Linked DNA regions of Homo sapiens. The protein of the gene in region 3 interacts with the protein of the main gene of each other region in a pairwise test. Each region holds a gene or a part of one and is shown on either strand. Other genes may lie near its edges. The genes, in order: SYS1, SLC35A1 and MCFD2.

Region 1 (4,636 bases), on a different chromosome or scaffold from region 3:
GAGACTGTTTGAGCTGTGTACCCTCCAGGATGCTGGGAGTCCTGGAGCTTCCCATTGTACCCCCTGATGTCTGCTGGCTGCCATCGTGGCTCTCATTTGGCACTGATATGGACAGGGCTGCCTAGAGCGAGGGGTTAGAAGTACCCTCTGAGCCAGACATCCCTTTTTCCTTTCCTGTCCTCCTTTAAGGGTTATAAACTATTCTGACCATCAGCTATGTAGGAGTCTCCACTTTTCTCTCTGAATGGCCAGAGTTCAGGTGGTGGGTGGGAAAAAGGGAGGTCAACTTCAGACACCTGGAGAGTTAAGAGATATGCCAACTCAGTAGTGGGCTAGTACTCTCTTATCTAGGTACCTTCCTTTATCCTTTGGAAATAGATTTCCCACATTCCTAAGATCATCTGAAAATCTCTGGCCAATGCTGGGCACAGTGGCTCATGCCTGTAATCCCAGCACTTTGGGAGGCTGAGGCGGGTGGATCACTTGAGAGGCCAAGAGTTCGAGACCAGCCTGGCCAACATGATGAAACCCCGTCTCTATGAAAAATACAAAAATTAGCCAAGCATGATGGTGCCAACCTGTAATTCCAGCTACTTGGGAGGCTGAAGTATGAGCATTGCTTGAACCCAGGAAGCAGAGGTTGCAGTAAGCTGAGATTGGGCCACTGCATTCCAGCCTGGGTAATGAAGTCGGAGTGAAACTCTGTTTCAAAAAAAAAAAAGGCCAGTTGGGCTTGGTGGCTCACACCTGTAAAATCCCAGCACTTTGGGAGGCCGAGGCAGGTGGATCTCTTGAGCCCAGGAGTTCGAGACCAGCCTGGGCAAAGTGGCAAAGCCCTGTCTCTAAAAAAATAAAAATAAAAATAAAAATACAAAAATTAGCTGGGCGTGGTGGCATGTGCCTATAGTCCCAGCTACTTGGGGGGCTGCGGCAGGAGGATCATTGAGCCTGGGAGGTTGAGGCTATGATGAGCCAAGATCACACCAGTGCACTCCAGCCTGGGTGACAGAGTAAGACCCTGCCTCAAAAAAAAAAAAAAAAAAAAAAAAGGAAATCTCTGGCTATATTTAATGTACTGCATATCAGCTTTTCTTAGAAAGCTAGTAATGTTTATAAAGTACTATTCATCCTCGGTATTTAAAAAAATTGACAGGACAAGAAGATATGATTATAAGGTGATAAACTATTTAACCAGACTGTTTAGCCAGTCAGAACTTATACATCCCTAACTACTGACCTCTTCAAAATGAGCTTATTAATATCACTATTAGAGCCCAAATCCTGGCTCTGCCAGCTCCTAAAAAGTCACCTTGGGTAAGTTCCTTACAGCTCCCTCATCTGTAAGATACAGATGACGTTACTTCTTACTTCAGAGGGTTCTTGTGAAGATTTTGAAAAGAGACATAAAGCACTCAGCCCACACTGCTGGACACCTCTTAAGCACTCAATAGATGTTATTTATTATTAAAATGACAAACATGTCACTGCCATTGCCCTGCCCTCTCTGGAACTCAACTCTAAAAACTGCTTTTATTGTTACTTTAGAAATCATAAAAATCTCATTAAGGTCACATATTTTTGATCCCCAACTACCATGCAGCTCAGTCTCCATATTACTGAAAAAAAGTTTGGATCACGTGACTTTTGGCCATTTCTAAAAATCAAATTAACACTCAGGGGACAGAGATTTGTCATCACAGAAGATATGCAGAAAAATAGGCACAAGACCTTGAAGTGAATCCCAAAGAGGCGCTCCAACCACAGATGGAGTAACCACCACCACGGCTGGTCAAGGGTGACAGCAGCCACATGATGGGTGTTCTTTCAAAGTTAGTCACATGCCTGCAGTTTGTGTTGTCTAGAGGGAAATTGATTAACCCAGGGAAGGTCATCCCAGCTGGTCTTACCTCCTAGACCCTGCAGCCAGGATTACTGTGCCTCATTAACAAACTGCTTCCTTCCAACTTGGCCAAGGTACCATGAGTTACTGAGGTGCCTCACCCTAGAACCTTCCCAGTCTCTTCCCAGGCATATTTATTCCTAAATCTTCATCCTGTCAGCATCAACTCCCTACTCTGTAGGGCTGAGAGTCAGGAGGTCAGATGAGCTTCTCAGAGAGATAGCAAAACTCATTTGTGTTACCATAAACTCATTTGTGTTACTGACAGCTGAAAACTGACAGCTCTCTTGGGAAAGCTCTGAAGAAACCAAAGAGGAACAGTGAAGGTTTCAATGCGGAAGTGGGTCTAGACTGTGTGCCGCTCCATTGAACATGTTCAGAAATCACTAGCAAGTAGGAACGGAAACCCAAGAATTATGTGGTTCACCTGAGGCATAGCAGGGGACGCTGCAAGTGAAGGAGACAGGATGTAAGAGTTCCCTGCACTGAGTATTTTAACCAAATGGAGGAATGACTCTGGGGTCCAGGAAAGGGAGAAGGTGGCCTAATAATTCTTTAAAGTTCCCTTGCCTGGCTGCGCTGATCTCTCTCAATCTCAACCGTGGCATTACAAAGTAAGTGCAGGCAGAACCATGGAAAATACTGTATTTGTATACACAGGAAGGATAGCTGCAAGCCCCTCACAGAGGAAACTCCACCCCAAAGAAAAATCTTAGCAGCAAATTCCTATCTCCCTCAGCACTATCAGCACAGCCCAGGCCAGAAGGTTGGGCTTCTTGTCTCTGGGAACCCATCATACCCTTCCCGCCAAAGAATTCTAAATAAGGCAGGAAAAAAAATTGGAGTCCAGTGGGAGCTGGGTGCCTGGTCATTCCTAGAAGACAGGCAGTGTCTTTATGATGGTTAGACTTTGAGCAACGCTGGGATTCTTCTCTGGGTCCTATGGCCTGCTATGTTGAGAGCTGGCAGCAGGATGGGGACCTGGTAGAAGGAACTGGAAGAAAGTCATAGGTTCTTGGGTGCACATGAACGTGTGTATAACAGGGCACAGGTTGTGCATTTTCCTTGTGCTTGATGCCTCCATCTGCCATCCTCTCCCTGACAGCAGCCTAATACTTCACACCTACATTTCTTTCTGTGGCTCTGGATCCGGAAACCAAGCGTTTCTCCAACAGAACTGCTGTGATTCGGCAACACTGCAAAGGTAACTGCTGTGATTCGGCAACACTGCAAAGGTAACAGCTGTCCCAGGGGGGTAAGACAGATGACTAAAGAAGTGGTTTGCTCCAATCAGATATCCTTGATTTTTTTTCTCTCTTAAAACAACAGGCTGGTGACAGGTATTGTGGCTCAAGAGTGGCATGGTTCCAATTCTGTTATTACCCTCAAAGAGGTCCCCTTCCTGACCTCTCAGATACCAAGGCTTCAACAGACAGAGGTCATTCTTGCAGCTGTCATGCTGACTGCTACCTGCCTTCTTTGACAGGCCCTCACTATCTCTCCCAAACCAACAGAGACTTCACATTTCCAGGGTTCCTCTCAGATCTGGGCTGGACCTCATCTGGAGGGTCTGAGCAGCCCAAGGTGTTAAGGGGCCCAAGTGTCAGCAGGATGTCCAAAGGGCCTGATTCTAGACATTGGATTTAGGGGCTGAGTTGAGGGGTATCTCCTTGAGCTCCGTCCGCATGCACAGGTACTCCCCGATGACAGCCATGAGTGCAATGCACACGGCTTGGACCAGCCACCAGGTCAGCGCCGAGGGGAAACGGGAGCTGTAGAACCAGCAGCCCAGGAGGTGAAAGAAATGGACAGTGACAGTGAAATCCAGACACTGCTTTCCTCGCCGGATGAAGTACAGCAAGCCCAGGGCACTGTGGGGAGAGGACAGCAGTGAGTTGTCACTGGGTTGTCCTGGCCTTAGGTTATTTGGGAGGGTAGGGACAATTAGGACGGCAGCATAGTGGTCAGAAGTGACGAGATAAGTGTGAAGCAAGGGTTATGATACCAGACGCCTAGAAGAACCTGGCGGGTAATGTCAAGAGTGAAGCTGACTGAGTATGAGCTTGATGATCGATGGCAATTGTCACTAGGGGATCCTAGGAATTGGTGGGGATCATGACACCCTGAAGCATACATGTTCTAGCTAAAGGGGGGCAGTAGCTACTTGCATCTAGGCAAATCTTATCATGCTAGAAGGTTGGCCTGGAATCAGTCAGTCATTCCATTATTCAAGAGAAGCCAGAAATCTGGATTTTTATATAAAATAGCCTGATTTTCAACTAAGTGAAAAAAATGTTTTAAACACCATGTGTGGGCTGACATCTATGTAAGCCAAATAGAACCTATCTGGAAGACAAATTTAGGTCAAAGTCAGCCCACCAGTTTTCAACCTCCGGTGTAAGGACAAGAATAATAATAACATGCAAGGCACTGTTCTAAGTCCTTCTTGTGAATTAACTTATTTAATCCTTACAACTATGAGGTAGGTAATATTACTAGCCCCATTTTACTGATGAGGCAACTGTGGTAGATTAACTTGTCCAAAGTCACTAGACTAGTAGTAAAGCTGAGGTTCAATGCCAAATGAGTCTGCCTCCAGAGCCTGACACCTTGACCACTATGCTAAACTGCCTCTTAAGAGACAGGCAATGATTACGTGTGACCTTAGACATCACTGAGTCCAAACCCTCATGGACAAAAGAGGAGCCTGAGGCCCATGGCAAGTAACTTGGCCAA
Region 2 (8,082 bases), on a different chromosome or scaffold from region 3:
CTTCACTGAATTCTGATTTTACAAGAACAAAGCCGAAGTACAGATCACCAAGAGGAATCTAACCAGGAATTTAAGAATAGTATCAAGAAATCGAAAACTCAGAATAAGTGGAGGCTTGCAAAAAATCCTGTAAGGCATTAAAGAAAGCTTTTTTTTTTTTTTTTCTTTTTGAGACAGGATCTTGTGGTATAATCATGGTTCACTACAGCCTCAACCTCCTCGGCTCAAGTGATCCTCCCACCTCAGCTTCCCAAGTAGCTGGGACTACAGGCATGCATCACCACATCTAGCTAAGTTTTAAATTTTTTTGTAGAGACATGGTCTCACTATATTACCCAGGCTGGTCTTGAACTCCTGGGCTCAAGCAATTCTCCCCGCCTAGACTACCTAGCTAAATAAATTTAAAAGACTATCAAGAAAAGTAGGTGAGTTAGTGTATATAAAGCATTTAGATAATGCTAGTATTTAGTGCATTATAAATGATTGCAGCTGTTATTGTTACATTGATTACCAGCAAAATGTTAGAACAGATTTAGAGATGACTTGTACTTAAAAAGCTTAATGGTCATCAGTGGAAAATAGTGTGACTTCACCAAGTGTGAAACATACCAGATTTCCTTACTGAAAGGACTCCTAATGTTAAGTGATGAGGGGAATTCCATAGAGATAATGTTTGGCAAAAAATGTGACAGACTTGCATATTATTGTTATTATTATTATTATTGAAACAGAGTCTCGCACTATCACTCGAGCTGGTGTGCAGTGGCGCGATCTCGGCTCACTGCAACCTCTGCCTCCCAGGTTCAAGCGATTCTCCTGCCTCAGCCTCCTGAGTAGCTAGGATTACAGGCGCCTGCCACCACGCCCAGCTAAGTTTTTGTATTTTTAGTACAGACGGGGTTTCACCATGTTAGCCAGGCTGGTCTCGAACTCCTCACCTGGTGATCTGCGACCAGCCACATAATATTTTTATAGACAACACAGAACTGTAGTGAGGATAAAGGTACAATCCGTAAGTGTGTGAATGCTCATACAGAAAAATGGTAGTTAATTGAACAAAATCAAGCTAGGCCATCAACCAATACCAACTTGCCAGGCATATAGATAAGCCACGTTAGAAACAGATCCTCCAGCCGTAGTCAAGTCTTCAGTTGACTGCAGCCCTAGCCAGTATCTTGACTGCAACCTCAAGCCAGAACCAGCTAGCTAAGGCACCCTCAAATTCCTGACCCATAAAAACTATGAGAGATGATATGTTCAGTAAGCAAGAAAAAGATCAAGCTAGAGAGAATTCTAAAGGTACAGCCACAGAACTCTGGTCCTGTTCTACCTAAAATTTTCATTAAAGACCCAGAAGGCATATTTTTTTTGACTCTGGAAAGCGTAATACCCAAAGGAGAAGCTAATAATGGGTAAGAACTGGAAATAACTCAAGGGGCTGAGCAATGACCCAAAGCTAACAAGAAGAGCTTAATAAATACAAACTCAACCTGCATTCTGGTTTAGAATAAGCCAGAGTTTGAGTTCTAGTGTCAATGAGAGTCTATTCCAGTCCTGACACTTGGAACCCACTTAACCAGTAGTGGAGGAGTGCATGGCAGTGCAGACAGATTGAGGGAACAGTGGGGTGAGAGGGATACAAGATACATTTGAGACAAACTATTTGGGTGACACAGTTACATGTAGTGGTTTATGATCAATTGTAAAATAGATACTTTGCCTGCCCCCCAGAAATTAACAGTCATGTACCACATAATGACATTTCAGTCCATGATGAACCACATATAAAACAGCGGTCCTGTAAGATAAAACTATATTTGTGCCTTTTCTATGTTTAGGTACGCTAAACTTACCACTGTGTTACAACTCGCTACAGTATTCAGCACAGTAACATGCTGCAGAAGTTTGTAGCCTAGGAACAATAGGCTATATACTGTACAGCCTAGATGTGTAGTAAGTAGTCTATACCATCTAGATTTGTGTAAGTATACTCCATGATGTTTGCACAACAGTGAAATCACCTAATGATGCATCTCTCAGAACCCTGAACTTACATTCTTTGTTAAGCGATGCATGACTGTATAACAAGTCTCCGGTATTCAGAACAAAGGGGTAATTACCAAACTGTGCCTCGTATTACTTAGACAACATTGGGAGACAGTGGGGTTTTAGGATATATTGAGAAATAATGACAGATGAATGCATCTAGGAGAAAAATATAAGGAAAAGTGTAGGGGCAGAAGGCAGGGATCAGGAAGTCTGTCTAGAAACCATATTATAGAAAGAAACAGTAGGGTTTTAATTGGGGAAGGAGGGGACCTGGAGGGTGGGGATATGATACTGTTCACAAGCACTGTACATCCCAGCCGCCTTCCATTCCTAAGAGAACCATAGTCTGTTTGCTAAAAGTTAGAGTAAATATTCAACTGTAGGAAACTCCTGACCTTCACAAAACTATTCACTGGCATCCCATTTCCTGTTTCTCTTTGGGGAAATAACTGATTGAGGCATACAATGTAAGAAAAAAAATCATGTATGTATCTTAGCGTTAACTCTTTAAAAATCTGTTATGTACCTTCACATTAACTCTTAAAAACTAAAGATAATTATCAATTATCAGTAAGAACACTCCTTCCCTTGTCATCCTGATCACTGACAGTAGGGAGATGTGCCAGAGACTGACAGTTGAGAGAGAAGATGAAAACTAGATGCAGAAAAACCTTGCCCAGTGTTTCTGAGATGTTTGAAAGAGGTCTAGAAGTTCTAAACATATACAGTATGGAAACTGGCACAGTTGTGGTCACAAGTTAGCTATTAACTAATTTAGGACAAGTTCCTTCACCTCTTTGGGGACTGTCATCCATAAAATGGAGGGGATGGAACACATTATTTCTAAGGTATGTTCCATCTGTAACATATTTTATGCATATTCTCCTCTGAGAAACAACCAATAAGTATTATTATCCCTAATAATATGCTAAAGAAAAAAGGCCTATCTATAAGGCAAAAGTTATTTTAAATCAAAGAAATGTAGTCATGCTGCATGCATCAATGTAACTGAACAGTATAAGACTTAAGGAAGTTTTCTATTTATGGGAAGTTATGGTGTGCATTTTGTTTCTTACCACCACTTTTGTAGCTTGGGCTGGTTTCCACTGTACAAGCGTAACTCCAGCACACAGCATAAAAACTGAAACCCACTGTAATTTGCTGAGTGTCCGGTTTAACATTAAAACAGTGCATAAAGCAGTACACGGAATCTTCAACTGGTAGGTCACCTAAAAAAAAGAGAATGAATTAATAAATTCAGTTAATGTTAGTCTCTGATACAAATATATTATTTCTGGTATCATTGATAAAATTATCAATAAAAAATATTTGATAATGGCCGGGCACGGTGGCTCACACCTGTAATCCCAGAACTTTGGGAGGCCGAGGCGGGTGGTGGATCACGAGGTCTGGAGATCAAGACCATCATGGCCAACATAGTGAAACCTCATCTCTACTAAAAATACAAAAAATTAGCTGGGTGTGGTGGCATGTGCCTATAGTCCCAGCTACGCGGGAGGCTGAGGCAGGAGAATCGCTTGAACCTGGGCGGCGGAGATTGCAGTGAGCTGAGATCACGTCACTGCACTCCAGCCTAGACGAAAGAGCGAGACTCCATCTCAAAAAAAAAAAAAAAATTGATAATATGATAAAGAGTTAATAAAAACTCTTTTTACCATAAAAGATTCTGTGCTTTTCATTATCATTAACTCCACTTACCTGGTACACTGCTGCATCCAGATTGCTAAGAGCTAGGAAAGCCATGTTGTTCTGAACAGCATACACTAACGATGGCACACTTAACTTCAACAGTTCCTTGGGGCTCCCCAAGACATTTTCTCTTAAAGATGCTTTGAATCTACCCAGACTACCAGTTTCTCTTTGAAAACAAAAGGGGGAGATGAGAGGGTGGTAAGGAAGAAAATTAAAGAGTATTATTTTAATAAGACTTCTTCAAACACAGGACAAGCATACTATGCTTGCTGTAATTTAGCAAACTAATAATTTCTAACTAGTTTTAGATTAAAAGAAACATACCAATAATGTATCCTCTTTAAAAAATTATAGTTCTGTTTGGGAAAATATGACAACAACTAGATTTACCACTATCTCTAGTCAAAGCTCTGAGAGATTCTGAGTATATTGAATAATGAGATTAGGAAAACTGTTGATATTACCTATAAAAAAATTCATCCCCTGCTACTTTAACTATTTCATCAAGTTCACCCTGATTACTTTTTAATTGATCAGTTTGCATATCCATTTTTATTTTTATATTTATTTTTGAGATGGAGTCTTGTTGTGTCGCCCCGGCTGGAGTGCAGTGGCGCTATCTCAGCTCACTGCAACCTCCACCTCCCGTGTTCAAGTGATTCTCCTGCCTCAGCCTCCTGAGTACCTAGGATTACAGGCACCCACCACCACACCAAGCTAAATTTTTTGTATTTTTAGTATTGTTGGCCAGGCTGGTTTCAAACTCCTGACCTCAAGTGATCTGCCCGCCTCGGCCTCCCAAAGTACTGGGATTACAGGCGTGAGCCACTGCACCTGGCCTATTTTTAAAGTTTTTTTTAAATTACAATAGATTTAATTGCAAATAAAAAGGCTTTGGTAGTTCGTTAAGTGGGTTAGGAAGAGTCAGGTCAGTATTATTTATAAATGAATTTAGTACTTATGAAATATAGTAGATAATAAATCCTTATGTAAGAATATTCTCATACTTTATATCTGTATAATTCTGTAGCAGATCTGAATAATTTACTAACTCCAACAAAAGTAAACTATATCTCTAATGTACATAAAGTTTACTGTTTGACTGCATATTGATTATGCATGCTCTTAACTATTATTTTTGCTATTATTATTTCAGAAGGACGTGGCTAATCTGGCTTGTATTTCCTGTATCATAAATCAGCTCATTGATTTCCTGAAAGTAAAAATAAAGCAATGTTTTATAATAAGCACCAATACCCCAAAAGAAGTGCTTTATAATAATGGTCCTAACTGCAGCTCACGATATCCTTAAGAAAACCATAATACTTTGTTGGTGAAATAGCTCTGTTCCAACTCAAAGTTTGATAATTACAATGAGATTCTGTATTTTTGGTTAATATATTAGAATCAACAGTTGTGAGTTGAATTTTTTCATTTTTAAATGCTGCAAATATAATTGCCCAAGTTCTGAGAGAAAGCAAAAGTCCATTATATTAAATTGACTAACCTGTGCCTATTTATTTGCTGTAGAACATTCTACCTCCAAGAAAATGCTTAATTAATAAGACAGGAACTTTGACCTAAGCCACAGAAACAAAAGACATCCTTCTTAGTTACAGATCTCTTTGTATTACCAAATCCAAACCCACACCACAGTGTTAAGTCTATATGCTGAAAAGGAACGCACACAGCCTAGTGGTGGACTACAAACTCTATTCGAAAAGCAGAAGAATACCAAAAATACCACAGATTTTCCACCAAAAAATCTATGTAGGAGAGTTTTCCAGGCTTCTGAAGATTGGCTCTTTAAACTAATGTTTGCCTTTTTTTTTAACTGCTTAATGCAAATCTAAGATGCCCCATATACTTTCCTTACATCTTTGTTGTTTTGTTTTGTTTTTTTTGAGACGGAGTCTTTCTCTGTCACCCAACCTGGAGTGCAATGGTGCAATCTCGGCTCACTGCAACCTCCATCTCCCAGGTTCATGGATTCTCCTACCTCAGCCTCCTGAGTAGCTGGGACTACATGCACAGGCCACTACGCCCGGCTTATTTTTGTATTTTTGGTAGAGACGGGGTTTCCATGTTGGCAGGCTGGTCTCAAACTCCTGACCTTAAGTGATCCTCCTGCCTCGGCCTCCCAAAGTGCTGGAATTACAGGCATGAGCCACTGCACCTGGCCAACATCTTAAATAGAGTATAAAGAATAATTTTCAAAATGTTTTCTCCTCAATTATAAAACTGATGAAAAAATTAGAGAAAAAGAGATTAAAATGTAAAATAATCACCTTAATAAGGTGATGTATCAGAGAAGATAACTGAACATTATAATTATCTCTAGTATCATGATAGCATAGATATAAATTTTACAGACTGTATGAAGTGCAAGTTTTAGTGCCCTTCTAAAATGCTGACTCATACACTGATGATGTGTCTTTAAGGTGATACCCAGAAGGAACTGCTGAGAGGTGGCTGTTTGTGCCCATGCTTCACACTCCACCTTCTCCCATATTCATTTATCTCCTGGTGTAAGATTCTTCATGCTAAACCCTCAAAAGCTACAATATAATGGCTATTTATCCTTTCCCTAATCCCCAGCTATGGGCAATGCCACTTTACCTCCACCTGTTAAATATATTATAGCCTTGGTGGGTGTGGTGGCTCACACCTGTATCCCAGCTACTCAGGAGGCTAAGGCAAGAGGATCACTTGAGGCCAGGAGTTGGAGACCAGCCCAAGTAACAGAGGAAAATCCCTTCTCTTAAAAAAAAAAAAAAAACTGCCAGGAGTGGTGGCACATGCCTATCATCCCAGCTACGCAGGAGGCTGAGGTGGGAGCATCACTTGAGCCCAGGAGTTTGAAGCTACAGTGAGCTATGATGCCACCACTGCACTCCAGCCTGGGTGAAAGAGTAAGATACCATCTCTTTTAAAAAAAAGAAAAAAATAAGACATTAGAAGCCTTCACTGGTAACAAACGACCTTTTGACTCTCCAAAAAACAGGGCTGATTCTCTTTGTCCTGTCAGAATATGGGCTACTTAAGGATCCAACTGCTACTCCAAATAATCACGATACCTGCACCAATAAAGGCTGCTGTGGTCCCTTTTCTCCCCACTCTTTTCTTTCTTATCACTTCTCCCTCACTTTTCACATAAAAAGAAGGGCTTATGAAACAAATTAGCAGCCAATCTGAGTATTCCTTTCCTTCAGTGGAGCAAAAAGTAAAGTACAGTGCGTCAGGATTAACCTTCAGATCTGTCTCTTTTGGCCATATCCTTTTTGTTGGATGCTTAGGAGCTATTTTTTCACGGTCAGGATGGCCAAGGTATCTTTTTCTGGTTCCTTCTCTAATGTAGACATTAGAGAAACCAAGGTATACCAGAATGTTAATTGCTGGAAAGTGCAAATATCACTGTAGTACCAAAGATTATAGCAATGTTACATAAGATATTTTGAAATAAGTTACAAAAAAAAACAGAGGATGCTAAAAGAACTAGTAAAAGAGAATAACAGAAAAGTATCAGAAAGTAGAGGAGATTTAGGAGGTATTGGAAAGAATATGTGGGAATCTCACCACACAGAAAGTTTTAAAGAAGAGGGTAAATAATTTCAGTATTAATCAGGTTAAATCCTGCTTAAGTTAATGTATTTATTAAGAATACAGCTCTTAATCTTATATTTAGCTTTACTCACTGAAGTTACATAAAAGTAACAAGAGCAATATATCTGCTAGAAAACACTAGTAATCATCGTTTTGTTTTACTATGAAAGAGATAGAAACAAATGATCAGTCCTAAATATACTGTAATATATTGTAAAAAGGTTACTTTTTCTTCCATTTTCCGGAACTTATATTTTCTGTTTTGGTGGGTTTTTCTTTTTTTTTTTTTTTGAGATGGAGTCTAGCCATGTCACCCAGGCTAGAGTGCAGTGGTGTGATCTCGGCTCACTGCAACCTCCACCTCCTGGGTTCAAGTGATTCTCCTGCTTCAGCCTCCCAAGTAAGTGGGAGTACAGGTGCACACCACCACACCTGGCTAATTTTTTGTATTTTTAGTAGAGATGGGGTTTTTCATCATGTTGGCCAGGCTGGTCTTGAACTCCTGACCAAGTGATCCACCCACCTCGGCCTCCCAAAGTGCTGGATTACAGGCGTAAGCCACCACGCCTGGCCCTCAACTTACTTTCTTAGAAATCAAATCACAAGCACCTTAATGAGCACCTCTGTTAAAAACAAATTTATTAATTATATAAATGACACTGCTAGCTAGGACAAAAGAGCGTATATAATCAAAAACATATATTAAATTTCTTTTTA
Region 3 (7,581 bases):
GTGAGGTCTTTTCAATTCCAAGTCTGGTGTAGGTATTCGTCCTGCAGGCTCCCAAGTGCTTCCCTTCAGAAGGCTCCCGTCCACAGCTGATGACAGCTGCAAATTAATTCTTTTTTTTCTTTTGTTTTCTTGTGTGTGAATGAATTCTTGAAAAACTGCCTGATTACTTGTCAGTGCCCCTTGCTGGATGGGCTTTAAGAGGACTTGGACTGAATCCACATTCCCAGTATCAGGCACAGTGCCTGGAACAGAAGCTGCTGGTTCTTAGCCTGTGTGCCATGGTCCTTGGGGAGCTGGGGGGATTACCACCTTTGCAGATATGCTGCCAATTTTTAATGTCACTGTAACTGAAGATGAAACTTTTCTTTTGGAGATATCTATCATGGAACTCATGGCACCATTTCCTCCAACTATGTGATTGGATGCTTAGTATATCAATTTGGTGTGTGTGTGTTGGGGGTGGGGGAAATTCTATTTAGATAACACCAAAAAGCAACCAAGTGATTAATCATGTAGTAACTATGAGTCCAAAATATCCCTTCTTTAAGGGAGGTGGGATAAAGGCCAAGAATCACTGATTTTGAACTTGTCTCATTTTGGTTTGCTGTTGCAGGTTTCTAATCATTGGAATGCAACAAAAGCCAAATCGATAAACATAAAGAAAAAAAATTCCTCCAAGTGGTACACTGAAAACAGGGAATCGGGCTGGGCATGGTGGCTTATGCCTGTAATCTCAATACTTTGAGAGGCTGAGGCAAGTGAATCACTTGAGCCCAGGAGTTCAAGACCAGCCTGGACAACATGGTGAGACTCCCTCTCTAATTAGAAAAAGAGAGAGAGAGAGAGGAAGAAAGGAAAGAAGGCAGGCGAGGGAGGGAAAGATAGAAAACAGGGAATCTAACTGCCACCTAACAAATTAAACTGCTGACAGTCAAGAGAAAGCATAAGCAACTCCCTCTACCCAAATAACAGGTTGCATCATCCATGCTCTAACTACTTAGCTCAAGGCCATGGGCTAACAGCCTGAAGATAAGCCCCAGCTCACTGGCCTTCTTTAGGAAATTATAAAGGCCAGGCTGAAGAAAAACCCAACGGAGGAGAAATTTCTGCAAAGGGACTTCAGGGCACAACCCATACCTTGAGACAGCCCTCACAAGGCGCAGCCTCAGTCCTGGGAGGGCAGTGCTGGACCATCAGGAGCAGTGCGCCTCCCAGTGCCTTGGCTGTCACAGTGCTCCCCTCCTGCTCTGCCAGCCTCTTCCTGTACCACAGCCTCCGCTCCTACTGGTTCCATCTGTCCATCTCCAACTTCCTTCCAGGACAGGTTCAAATGTCACCTCAGGATTCTTCCAGCCAAGACCAATTGCTCTCTCATCCGACCTCAGTCTGTAGCCTCTCACACTCATTTGACCTGAACATACGATCACAGGTTGTTCTCCTTTTCCATTTTTCTCTTTTCCTCCCTCTCTGAGAGTCAGGACCCTCTCTCCTCTGGCTCTCATTTACCTTACTGATCTCTGCTGAGCTGACCTGGCTCATCGCTGAATCAGGGAAGTGAGTCTTGGCACCTAGGTGTATTGTTCCCTATCCCACAGCGGATCTAGCCTAAGCTGGAACTTCCTTTGGAGGCTTCCAGTGGTTTGACCTGGCCCAACCCTTTCTTCCTGGTGTGTCATCAGTCCTATCAGCACTAAGTTTGGGGCCAGCCTTCCTGCCAGCAGCTAGTAGCAGCTTCTCCCTCAAGGGGCCCTTGGTTAAGAATTCAAACCCAAAGCAGCCAAACTCACCAACATCCAGACATCCTGTACCCACAGCCAATGCCAAAGAAAAACTGACCAGTACTTTGTCACTTACCCCTGTCATGGTCCTGGAATGAAGGCAAGAAAATAACCAACTTCCTAAGCTAAAGAAACCTCTACACGGACTGAGGGTTGAGAATTGGTTCTGAAAAAGCAGGCATTTAATATTAATAACTTGATCTATTTGTTCATCTAGGGAGCCCAAGGAGCACCCATGCTGCATTTATACATTTAATGACCGTACTAACAGCACAAGGTACTGAAGATAGTACTATGACCTCGACAAACTCCTCTCACACAGATTACAACCTGGTAGAAAAGAGAGACCGGCAGGCAGACACCCATGGGGTACCACGAAATCCCCAACTGACACCTGAAATAACACATAAAGGATAAGAAGGATTATTTCAACCAAAGGACAGTGCCTCAGACATAGCGAACATACTGAAGGAACATGTAAGCCCAGAAGGAACTTGTTCTGATCTAAGAACCAAAAAAGATTCAGTATGGTTGAAGACACAGTACAGTCGAGACAAATGAATCTAAAGTTAAAGGAAGACAGGTCATGAAGGGCTTTGCAAGCCCCGTTCAAGAGCTTGGAAGAGCAATGAGAATCCACCAAAGGGTGATAAGGGAATGGGGGGACGCTTCTGGTCACATGATCAGATTTCTGTTTTAAGACCATGGCTGTAGCCTCTCTGTATAGAACAAACTACAGAGGATGAAGAAGAGATGCAGGGATCATCAGGAAGACACCGAGGTAGTCCAGAGAAGAAAAGGTGGCCTGAACTAGGTAGGGCAGGGGGATGGGACTGGAGAATGAACGTATCCAAGACAACTTTGCAAGGGATTCGATGTGGGTGGGTAAAGGAGTGAAGCAAGTGAGAATGATGCCCAATTCTGGCTTGGGCACCCGGGTGGATGGCCATGCCCAGAGAGGGAATACAACAGGAGATCAGCTTCCCCCGCCGGGCCCGACAGGACCTGTGGTCTCCCCGAGAGAGGGAACAAGGAGCAGAGGGAGAGTAAGGCTTCCGGCCCGCTGCTTTTGGGCCGGGCCAGGAGCAGTGTCCACCCGACACAGCTGGTCCCACAGGCCGATCCTCGGGCCCCTAGGGACCAGGGAAGGGGGCGGAGATCTGCCCAGTCGGCCCCGTCTGGCTCCAGAGCCCCCGGTGGGGCACAGGCTTCCGCCCCGGGAGACAGGCCGTGCTCCTAGCCGGTTAAGCGTCCCGAGACGGCCTGGGGGCCCAGCCCGCGCCCCCAGACTACTCCTGCCTCTCATCTTGAGCCCAAGCCTCCAGCCCACAGGAGAGGCGCCGGGATCCCGCCCGCTGCGGAGAGTGCGCTAGTTCACTCACCCTTACGGTCTCCGAAGCAGACGCGAAGCCCTCCAACGTGAGCCTCACCAGCCCCCGTCCCCAAAACGCTCTTCCTCGGCTTCGCCCCGCCCCCCCCCCCCCCCCGACCTGCCCTGCGCACGCGCGCTCCCTGCCGCCCGCCCATTGGCGCCGCCGGGCCCCTCCCGCTGGCGGCGGCGGGCTGTGAGGACGGCTCGCGTGAGTCCACGTGTAATCGGCCCGGGCCCAGCACTGGCGGGACTGACGCAGTTCTTCTACCTGCTTTCCCAAGGGCGACACTCGGCTCCACTCCAGTTGGGCCGCTGGACGCCCTAGGGGCCCGGCAGTTGCTAGGCAACGCCGGAAGCCCTCAGGAACGTAGTTCCACGGGCGACGTAGGATGGCGGATCCGGATGGGGCGGACCCCAAAGCTGGCTCCCAACTCCGCTCACCCCCTCCTATACAGGGCTCTTGGTTCAGGTCTCTTGGTTCGTCCTGCTGCAAGTTGGGAAGAAAGATAATAGGAATGCTAATTCCTTCTTGATGAAACGACCACAACACGCTGGAGCCGGCCTTGGACCCTACGTTTCAAGATTGGCCTGCTTCCAGCGTCTGCCAGCTCCACTGCACAAGCTGCGGCAGCCGCTGTCCCCGTTCGCTTCCACGGGAGTCCCAGCAAGACTATGCGACCCAGTTCAAATACCATCTTCCATGTACCGTTCGTGAAATCAGCAGCTTTTGACATTCAAGAGAGGACAGATTACTTAAAAACAGACTCATGAACAAATAGGGAAACGAATACATCATCCCTGTATCGAATTCATCCCTGTATAATCCTGCCCTTACACCTGTGCTCCTATACAAGATTAACATTCAGTAAGTATCCATTGACCTGATGGATAAATGAGTGTAGGACGGTCGTTTTGTTTTTTTGTTTTGTTTTGTTTTGTTTTGAGACGGAGTCTCGCTCTGTCCCAGGCTGGAGTGCAGTGGTGGGATCTCGGCTCACTGCAACCTCCGCCTCCCAGGTTCAAGCTCTTCTCCTACCTCAGCCTCCCGAGTAGCTGGGATTACAGGCGCGTGCCACCTTGCCCGGCTAATTTTTGTATTTTTAGTAGAGACGGGGTTTCACCGTGTTGGCCAGGCTGGTCTCTAACTGCTGACCTCTTGATCCTCCCGCCTCAGCCTCCCAAAGTGCTGGGATTACAGGCGTGAGCCACCACTCCCGGCAGGACGGTCGTTTTTTTTAAAGCCCTTCTCCCATTTCTGTCCATAAAGGTACATAATCGTTTTTCAAATGAGCCTGGGTCCGGACAGGAAAGACAAAGAAAGTGGCTAAGTAGTTAGATGCCTTGAAAGTTGCCTAACGCCACTGCCATTGACGGTCTCATTCCTTTTCCCACCTTCATCTGAGATTGAAATCTGCCACCCCATCCCAGAGAAAAATCCCATAATCCCTAATTTTTTTTTCTTTTTTTAAAGAAAAGAGTCTCCATGGTGCCCAGCTCGTCTCGAACTCCTGGGTTCAAGCAATCCTCCCACCACCTCCGCCTCCCAAAGTGCTGGGATTACAGGGGTGAGCCACCGCGCCGGGACAAAGAATCCCTAAGTTTTGAGGAAACCCTATTAATTCAAGACCCATTCTTCTTTCCTTACTCTGAACTTTGGATTAGTTTGATCTAGTTCCTCCTTCTACCCTGCATCTGCCATTCATCCATCTCTTCATCCATTCATCCACCCCTCCCTTTGTTCATTTATTCATTCAATAACATTTCTTGAATATCTTCTATGTACTAGGCGCTCTACTAGGAGCTACTAGAGATACAAATAAGACAAATGAAGTGTCAAGAAGCTGGTGTCTGGTAGATGGATAAAGTGTCCTCATTCTAGCCAGTGCTTTCATTTTTTTCCTATGGATGTTATCCTGTGTTATGTCTCTCTTGAATCTACAGTCACTCCCTCTCTACCAGATAATTCCCATCAACATATAAACTTGCTGTATTTTCTCCCCCACCATACCACTGAAACTGCAATCTCCATGCAAATCTAGTGGTCTCTTTGATCTCTTGTTTTTATTTTACTTGCCCTCTCAACACTGTTTTATCAAAGCCAACCACTCTCACTTAGAAACACTTTCTTCTCTTGTTTTCTGACACCACACACTCTGGGTCCTTCTGCTACCTCACTCATTATCCTTTCTTGGGCTTCTTAATTGGCTTCTCAATCTATAATTATCAAAGTGTCCAGGGTTCTGTTCTGAGTCACCTTCTCTATCCACCCTCCCTATGTGAGTTTACCTAGTCCTGTGCTTTAGATACCATTTATAAATAGATGACTCCAAAATATGTCTCTCTGACAATGACCTCTCTGTGTAATTCCTGGCTCCTGTAAATAACTGCCTACTTGATGTCTCCATATGAATGTCAGACTGGCATCTCAAACTTAATGTGTCCCCCCAAAATCTTGATTTTCACCCCCAAACCTGCACCTCTCTCAGTCTTGTGCATTTTAGTAAATGTCACTGGTACTCATTCTGTTGTTCAAGCTAAAATTCTACGAGCTGTTTTTGATTTATCTCATCCCTTTACCTTTAAATCCTTCAGCAAAGCCTGTTGATGCTATCAAAATGTATCCTGAGTCTTTGACTTCTTTCCACCTCCACTAAACCATCTAGTCCAGTAGTAGATGATGCTGCTGGACTACTTGAGAGAGAGCTTCCTAACTGACCGTCCTGCTTCCATTCTTGCCCTACTGTAGTCCATAAGTGAGAAGCCACCTTTGATTAAGCCATTTTATAGGTGGGTGTTCTGTAACTTGTAGCTGAACCCATTCCTAACAGGCAAATAATTTGGTACCAGAAGCAGGATGCTAAAAACAAGACACTAAAATATGGAATTGGCTAACTGGAGGTTAAGGTAGCCAGTGTTAAAAGACTGTATGTCAAACTGGAAAGTTGGTGACCCTTATAAGCCGTAGTGAAACTGTCACTTGCTGGACCTTGGATATAGGCCACATGCCAACCAATGCTATATTTTTGGAGAAATCTCACGAGCAATATGGAACATTAGTGAGTGTTGCCTTTTTTAGTAGCTTTCAGCAGACTCCTTCAAGAGAAGGGCAACTCTACGTTGGAAATAACTGATTTGAAAGCAGAGATTAAAGAAAGTAACGACTAGGTAAGAGAGGATCTCTTTACCTGCAACCAGGAGTCTCATAACTTGGAACCTTGCTGAAATACCCCATTTACTTTGTGTACTCAGGTTGAAACTAGTACAAGTAGAGACAGAGAGGTGGCTTTATCAGGAGATAGGACGGCCATCCCAAGATACCAGAATGGCCTCTAGGTGGCATCTCTTTCCTCAGCTGTTTTGAATTGTCTCAAGACAATGTTTTACCTATGTAGGGGATTCCAGAGTGGATGAGAATAGGGGTGAAAATAAGATTTCAATTTACACCTTTTAGTATTGCTTTGATGTTGTAAACTACATATTACTTATTTGGAAAAATAAATAGAAAAATATTGAATAAAAACAATTTAAAGACTCTAGATAGGCTGGGTGTGGTGGCTCACGCCTGTAATCCCAGCACTTTGGGAGGCCGAGGCGGCAAATCACCTCAGGTCAGGAGTTCGAGACCAGCCTGGCCAGCATGGTGAAACCCTGTCTCTACTAAAAATACAAAATTAGCTGGGTGTGGTGACGCATGCTTGTAATCCCAGATACTCGGGAGGCTGAAGCAGGAGAATTGCTTGAACCCGGGCAGCAGAGGTTGAGGTGAGCTGAGATCGCACCATTGCTCTTCAGCCTGGGCAGCAAGAGCTAAACTCTGTCTCTAAATAAATAAATAAGACTTTAGGTAAGTTATTTGTGATTACTATACATGAAATTGATCAGAAGTCTAACAAATGATTGAGGTAATCCTGTGTCCCTAAAATCTCAAGCCTGGTTAACAACAGTCTCTTGCTGTTGGGCCCTGTGGTAATCTCTGAACCCTGGAATTCCTTCTAACAGGGAGTAGGATGCAAAAGGTGTGCGTTCTGCACAAGTAGAGGAAAAAACAAGGGTGCGGCTTCCAGATTCTCCAACTGAGAACTTAATACACTGCCACCAAAGAAACTGCAGTTTCTTTTGTTTAGAGAAAAGGTCTTGCTCTATCACCCTTGCATTGGATGAGGGTGACCTCAATGGGTTGCATGTTCTAGGCTCCCCTGTCAGCTGGGATGGGGCTTTGTATTTCTCTCTCCCTTATTCATATTTCTGATAAGGGTGAACTGTGGTGTTAAAAGCTTGGAATTTTGGCATGTGTTGTGTTGTTCTGAATTCAGATATACTATAAACTGGGGTGGTGAATATGATGGCCATCTGCATTTGATGACCTTGTTTCTTCCGTCCCTGACTTTATCAAAGCACACATCACTCCTAATGAAAAGTCTGACTGTTGAT

The links.
Region 1: the proteins of MCFD2 (region 3) and SYS1 interact in binary tests that used the Homo sapiens proteins (3 or more experiments, as listed by UniProt).
Region 2: the proteins of MCFD2 (region 3) and SLC35A1 interact in binary tests that used the Homo sapiens proteins (3 or more experiments, as listed by UniProt).

Annotation. Positions count from the first base shown.
Region 1 is NC_000020.11:45,366,010-45,370,645, reverse strand, and holds the end of SYS1 (protein SYS1 homolog), read right to left. Parts: intron 3,772-4,636; coding exon 3,531-3,771; 3' UTR 1,437-3,530; downstream 1-1,436. UniProt on the Homo sapiens protein: Involved in protein trafficking. May serve as a receptor for ARFRP1.
Region 2 is NC_000006.12:87,496,354-87,504,435, reverse strand, and holds part of SLC35A1 (CMP-sialic acid transporter), read right to left. Parts: intron 3,929-8,082; coding exon 3,769-3,928; intron 3,279-3,768; coding exon 3,126-3,278; intron 1-3,125. UniProt on the Homo sapiens protein: Transports CMP-sialic acid from the cytosol into the Golgi apparatus, functioning as an antiporter that exchanges CMP-sialic acid for CMP. Binds both CMP-sialic acid and free CMP, but has higher affinity for free CMP.
Region 3 is NC_000002.12:46,912,563-46,920,143, forward strand, and holds the start of MCFD2 (multiple coagulation factor deficiency protein 2 isoform A precursor), read right to left. Parts: upstream 3,245-7,581; 5' UTR 3,161-3,244; intron 1-3,160. UniProt on the Homo sapiens protein: The MCFD2-LMAN1 complex forms a specific cargo receptor for the ER-to-Golgi transport of selected proteins. Plays a role in the secretion of coagulation factors.